Homo sapiens: one gene and its partner. The protein of the gene in region 2 purifies or fractionates together with the protein of the main gene of each other region. This does not show direct contact. Each region holds a gene or a part of one and is shown on either strand. Other genes may lie near its edges. The genes, in order: KLHL1 and CACNA1H.

Region 1 (3,501 bases), on a different chromosome or scaffold from region 2:
CAAACCTAAGTTTACCTGACTCCAAAATGCATGTACTTTCCCTGGTCTTTCTTTTATTATCTGATGATTTTCATGGATTGTCTCACATCAGAGTCATTTAAGAAGCATTTACAAAATACAGTCATGCACTGCATAGCTGTATTTTCATCCTTGAGGTTCAGGTCATGGATGAACCACATATACAATGGTGGTCCCATAAGATTATAATGGAGCTGAAAAATTCCATCGTCTGGTAATGTCATAGCCCTCTTAACATGAAAGCACAACGCATTACTCAAATGTCTGTGGTGAAACTGGTGTAAACAAACCTGTTGTACCGCTTTTTTGAAAATGGAAAAAAGCTCATAGAATAAGGATATAAAGAAAAAAAATTATACAGCTGGACAATGTGTTTGTGCTTTAATGTAACTATTACTATAAAAGAGTCAAAAAGTTTTTAAAAATTTAAGAGTTTAAAAAGTAAAAAAAAAAATTACAGTAAGCTAAGGTTAATTTATTATTAAAGAAAGAAAAATATTTTAAAATAAGTTTAGTGTAGCCTAAGTGTAGAGAGTTTTTTAAGTCTGCAGTAGCATATAGTAATGTCCAAGCCCCTCATTTTCACTCATGACTCTGTCACTGACTCACCCAGGGCAATTTCTAGTCCTGCAAGCTTCATTCAGGTTAAATAAAAGAGGTGTGTACCACTTTTTATCTTTTATACCATATTTCTACAGTACCTTTACTATGTTTAGATATGTTCGATACACAAACAAACACCATTCTGTTGCAATTACCTAGAATACTCATTACGGTAACATACTTATATAGCTTTGTAACCTAGGAGCAATAGGTTATATCATACAGCCTCAGTGTGTAGTAGGCCATACCATCTGGGTTGGTCTAAGTATACTTTGTAATACGTGCACAATGATGAAATTGCCTAAGGATGAATTTCTCAGATTGTATTTCATTTTTAAGGAACGCATGACTGTATATGTTCACAAGCCCTATCACTAAATGGAAATGGGATTATATTGGGTAATTGTATTTTTGGCAACTTTCCCAAAGGCTCCCTGATGTCCATTCAATACTCAGTACTGTGTACTGGACTACATATAGAGTGAGTAGCTTAACTTTATATCTTCATCTACATTTATACCTCTATCTCTATAGATGCATGTGTGTATGTGTGCATGTGAAAATGAATCCTTTCTGTTTTTTCAAAAAACAAAATGTGATATTCCCCTTGTGTTTCTTATGTCAGTGAATGACACCCCTCTCCATCCAGTTGTTCAAGATAGAATCCTTGACCCTTCTTTTTACCTTACTCAACTCTAAATCTGAATCAGCAAGCCCTCTAAATATCTCTCCAACAAGTTTAATTCTATCCATTTATTCAGTCTTCCACATAGCTCAGGTTACATAATGTAAACCACATCTATCTCTCAAAACTTAACAATTCTGTTTCTTGCTCAGTGAGACATACCACGTGTTCTTCCTCTGGCTCTTACCAATGATGTTCCTTAAGCCAAAGCACTCCACATATTTTCATCTGGTTAGCTATTACTCATTTGTCAGGCCTCATTCCACATATTTCCTGAAAGAAGATTTCTCTGCCCAGTGCACTTAAGTTCTATCATAGTGCTATTCTCTTACCAAATAATTAATCATGCTATTTTAAACATTTGGTATTTTTCCACATAAGTACATTTTCAATGTTTAAGAAAAGTTTTCCTTCTTTTCTCTTGGTCCAGATTTATTTAATATACATTTTTAAAAATCTGCCTTTGTTCTCCCTCCAGGGGTTGTACCTTTCAGCATGAGTAATATGATAAGCTAAAAAGGTTGGCCACAGAACCAATGAAATAAAAGTAACGCTGAATGTAGATATTTCACCAGGCTTCTCTGTAACAAAATTCTCAATATATCATTATCAATATATCTTATATATCTATTGTCTACAAATAAATGAAATGCATACACAAAAAGTACACTTAGTTGCACAATAGTTCTCAATTTATTTGAGATACATTCATATTACCTCCTACTCCCAGCCAGAAACTATACTAGTCTTTAGAGACAGGTTAATAAATGACACATTGTCTTTGATTCCTTATGACCTGTAGATGAATGCAGCATGATAGTACTATGGCAGTATACCAAGATAATACATTATTAAAGGGCAATTTTACTTAGGCTAGGAGAAATGGAATAAAGTTCTCTTTATGTCTTGAAGCACGTGCATTATTTTTTTCAAATCAAACACAAAAAATAAGCTCGGTGTTCAATGACAAAAGTCAAATTTATTTAAAACATACATAGATACACACGTGTATCTATACATATGGTGTGTGTATGCATTCTCTGTAAAACAAAAGCACAAAACTGTTAATCGATTCCTAATCTATTTCCAACTCAAGCTAAACTGAGTTTTTTTCCAAATATTCACATATTTGGATATTTTAATATAGTTTGCTTATTTAATAATCAGCCATTTGTGGCTGCTAATATTATATGGAATAACCAATTTAGTCCACTTACAGGACATATGGAGTGAAAGTGACAGGAATTTAGCAAATATGGAAAACTTTTCAAGTAGGCTAGAATCCTGAAAATTTTTAAAGGGATTTTGTGTGGGTTGGCTGCTCATCCCTTGAGAGTCTTAAAAATATAAATAATGAGAAGATACAGAAGCAAAATCTTAAAGTAACTTAACAGTTTTAAATTTAATGTTTACTGTATTAAAATAAAGTTGTTATAAAATATTTTAAATGCCACTTTGCTGTTTGTAAAATACTATATGATCCAAAAAAGTATAATAAAATACAGATGAAGGAAAATGATCTTTAGGAGTCTTTTACCTATTACTACCTACTACATATATTGTTTTGATTTCAATTTTAGAGGATGATAAGCATAATGTCTCTTTATTATAAATATGTATTCAGATATTATATTACATCATTTATATAAACATAAACTTCCTTTATTTAATGTTCTTTTAAGTGGAACATTTAAAATACACACCATTTAACTAGTACATTTCCTTAGCAAGTCAGCAATCATTAATTAATGCATGCAGGGTTTGCTTTGGAAACACTAGGGACTCAGAAAGGTACAGTCAAAATATATCCTTCGAAATTTTAGTGCAATAATGTGAAAAGCAATCATTACTTGCTTTTATTTTTTTTTTACATACAGTGCTCTCTGAATAAGAAATGCTTCTTCTCTAGCAATTAAAATGTAGAAAATAACAAGACTTAGATCTCTTGATATTTCCCCTTCTTTTCTCTACTCCTTCTTTTTACTTACTTGGCTAAATGTACCTATTTTTGGTGAAGTCAAGAGTTTTCCTTTAGAGGAGAAGAAATTCATAATGCAGATACCTTAGTCTAGCCATTAGGAATTTGGTTTTGTACTCCGAAGTTAGTCTGACTAAAAAATATTGTTGCTGAATGCATACCATCAAAACTTGCAAAATCAAGGAAATCATGTTTCATTAAAAGTAAATATCTTTAA
Region 2 (3,486 bases):
CCCACGTGCCGTGACGAGGGTCGTGGTGGCATGGGACTTGTGTCTGGCAAGGTCTCCCATCCCCCCAGTGCAGGGCCTGGTGCCCCAACCTTCTCTGAAGCCTGTTCCCCCCACCCCAGAGCCTCTGCCACCCCCGTACAGCCTGCGGGAGGTGAAAGTCTCCGTGGTGGACACAGAGACCTGCCGCCGGGACTATCCCGGCCCCGGGGGCAGCATCCTTCAGCCCGACATGCTGTGTGCCCGGGGCCCCGGGGATGCCTGCCAGGTGAGCCTGCCAGGCCGTGACAGAGGATGGGGGCGGCTGAAGCCCAGGGAGGGGCTCCCCATCTTCTCGGCTCCCAATGCTCGCCTTCTCTGTCCTCAGGACGACTCCGGGGGGCCTCTGGTCTGCCAGGTGAACGGTGCCTGGGTGCAGGCTGGCACTGTGAGCTGGGGTGAGGGCTGCGGCCGCCCCAACAGGCCGGGAGTCTACACTCGTGTCCCTGCCTACGTGAACTGGATCCGCCGCCACATCACAGCATCAGGGGGCTCAGAGTCTGGGTACCCCAGGCTCCCCCTCCTGGCTGGCTTCTTCCTCCCCGGCCTCTTCCTTCTGCTAGTCTCCTGTGTCCTGCTGGCCAAGTGCCTGCTGCACCCATCTGCGGATGGTACTCCCTTCCCCGCCCCTGACTGATGGCAGGAATCCAAGTGCATTTCTTAAATAAGTTACTATTTATTCCGCTCCGCCCCCTCCCTCTCCCTTGAGAAGCTGAGTCTTCTGCATCAGATTATTGCAACATTTAACCTGAATTTAAAAGCACACGAAACAAAGGTGTCAATGGGAATCTCGCGGCCAACGCCCCCAGATGTAGGGGAGGCCTGATTCGCATCGGGGCCGGGCGCGTTACTCCATGGGGTCGGCCCCTTAGTGAGGTGTCACCTCTCCCAGAGTCACAGGACGCTTCTGGGAAGGCCCGAGCGGAACGGAAAGGGTGGTGGCTGGAAGGGGAGGGTGGTGAGGGCGTGACAGGCGGACAAGAACTCAGACTGTGAGTGAAGGTGACATTGGGCCGCGGTGGCTGCAACCTGCCGCCGGCAAGGGCACAGGGCCCCCAGCGAGTGTCCTGTAACAACGCGGGGCCTGAAAGGACGCAACCTGGTACCTTCCCCTCTCTGGCGGGTGCCCGGTCTTCGTCCCACAGACGCGGCTTCTCTCCTGACGGGAGGCTGACCCAGTTGCCCGCACAGCCTCGGCTGGTAGCAAAACTCGGAGAAACCCGAACCAGAACGGACGGAGGCTCGTGGGGCCCGGCAGCTACTCCTGCTTCGCTGGGCAGAGAACCAGGGCCTGGGCCGTCATCCTCCCCGGGCCTTTCTGCTCACGACGGGACCCAAGTCAGGGTCCATGCAGGGTTCTGCCTGGGCCTCCACCCCAGCGGGGCCCCCAGACCCCAGGGCCAAAGCCGTGGGCGGCACCAAGCCCCGAGCTACACGGGGTCATCTGCACCACCCCCTGGGGCAGGGGTGGCTGAGGGGGACCCTGGTTTCTCCAGAGGACACTGGGGGACTGTGAGGTACAGCCCCCGCCTCTTCTCTGGGGGGTCACCGACGGGCATGGGAGGCTCTGATTCTGGGGGTTCCAGGGGCACTATGGCCCCTGAAGAGGAAGCTCTGGATTCTGGGGTCACACTGTGGCTACCGTCCAAGAAAGGGTCTCCACTGGGGACCCCGAGGTCCAGCGGCTCAAAGGCAAAGCTGGGGACGGTCAGGTGCTCAGCCCGGCAGGAGGCCTGGCCCCAGCGCTCCCCCTTGGCTGCAGGGTCCCCCCCGGCGCCTGAGCCCTCTGTGGGCTCCAGGGAGTCCCTGTGAGGCGTGGCCTCACAGGACGGGGTCCTGCGCCTCAGTGTGGTGCTGCCGCCCTCTGCCGCGGAGGGCCGCGCAGAGCCCTCGTCCTCCGCAGGGGGTTCCACCGAGATGCAGGGGGGGCTCATCTTCTTCTTTCTGCGCGCACCCAGAGCGGGCTCGGCCTCAGGGCCCCAGGCCTTCGCCTCCCCAGGCTCCCCGCTGCCCAGCTCCGCCGAGGGCCGCCACTGCTCGTCTGCCCGGCCCGGCTTGTCCAGGAAGCCCTGAGCATCCACGCTGTAGAGCCTGCGCAGGTCCCGCTCGCCGCCGGCCACCGGAGAGGCTTCGGGGCCATGGGGCTCGGCTGTGGGCTGCCAGGGGCAGGCGGAGCTGGTGATGTGGCTGACCTCCTCGTCGGCTGGGTCCGAGGCCTCGGCCTCCTCTCCGCCTGGGGCCGCCGGCCGGCTGGAGACGCAGCGCTGTCCGAAGGTATGCTTACGAGTGCGGACGCTGGCGGGCCGTGGGGAGCGTGGTGGGGACTGCAGGGAGCCCCCCTGGGTCACCGGCCTCACCGGGGTTTTCTCACCAGGCTCTGCAGGATCCAGGGTGTCCCTAGGGCTGTCAATCTTCCCTTCCAAGGAATCGGTGTGCACAGCCTCCTGTGGGGGCGTAGAGTCAAAGTGAGGGGCGGGGCCCTGGGAGAGCCCTGTCAGTGGCCAGGGCTCGGAGACCCCTCACCATCCAGGTACTGGAGAGGCCAAACTGGGCAGGTCCCCTGGGTGGCTCCTGACCCTCGAGATGGGGCTGGAAGCCGCTGGTGTGGACGTCCTAGTCTCACTCCTGACCTGTGAGGCTCCCGGGGAAAGCCTGTACCCGCTGCTCTGTGGGCAGAGATGCCATGGCCCCCAGGGGCACAGAGCTGAGGCTGAGGCCACCTCCCCACCCCTGGACATCAGCAGCCCAGCTGGGCACCCCCAGGATGGGGCTCTCCTAACTGCTCCTGTGCGGTACAGGCGTCTTGTACTGGGCAGCAAGAGGTAGGAAAGGGCAGGAAGAGGAGCTGAGGCTGCAGGTGGGCAAGGCTGGGACATCTGAACACAAGCCAGGACTGAAAAAGCCGCTGTCTGCCCACCACGGGACCCATGCCCACATGGGGCCTGAGAAACTGCCATCTGCCCGCCGTGGGCCCTGGGAAACTGCTGTCTGCCCACCACGGGACCTGAGAAACCGCTGTCTGCCCACCGTGGGGCCTGAAGCTGTGGGTCCAAGAAGACTCAGGTCCCTGTAGCCAAGAGCTCTGTAGCCACAGGCTCACAGGCCTGAAGACGCACCTGGGCCCAATGCTCCAAGATCCACCAAGCAGCAGGCAGAAACCTTCGGAGCCCCAAGGACCCAGTGCGACCCTCCTCCTGCCTTGTCCTCGTCTGCTGGTCCTTCAGATGAGACGAGGCATCCCTGCAAGCCCCCCATCCCCGCCAGCCTCTGCTGCAGGCCAACGGCTTCTCCTACCTGTCTGCAGAGCAGCCGGCTGAGACTGGGGGAGCGGGCTGTGCCCCGAGGGGACAGGGCGTGGAGGGGCTCGCCGCTCCTGGCTGGGGACGACACAGCCAATGGGATCTGGAGGGAGGCACAGGACTCTGCGGGCGGAGAGTGCACAGAGGCAAC

What was found.
Region 1: the proteins of CACNA1H (region 2) and KLHL1 purify together in Homo sapiens (affinity purification with western blotting, with the first as the bait; one study listed by BioGRID). This does not show direct contact.

The regions. Positions count from the first base shown.
Region 1 is NC_000013.11:69,702,989-69,706,489, forward strand, and holds part of KLHL1 (kelch-like protein 1), read right to left. Parts: intron 1-3,501.
Region 2 is NC_000016.10:1,218,975-1,222,460, reverse strand, and holds the end of CACNA1H (voltage-dependent T-type calcium channel subunit alpha-1H), read right to left. Parts: coding exon 3,331-3,486; coding exon of another isoform or gene 3,153-3,330; intron 2,481-3,152; coding exon 1,467-2,480; 3' UTR 693-1,466; downstream 1-692. Other genes in the region: TPSG1 (tryptase gamma preproprotein), read left to right, coding at 120-265, 365-673.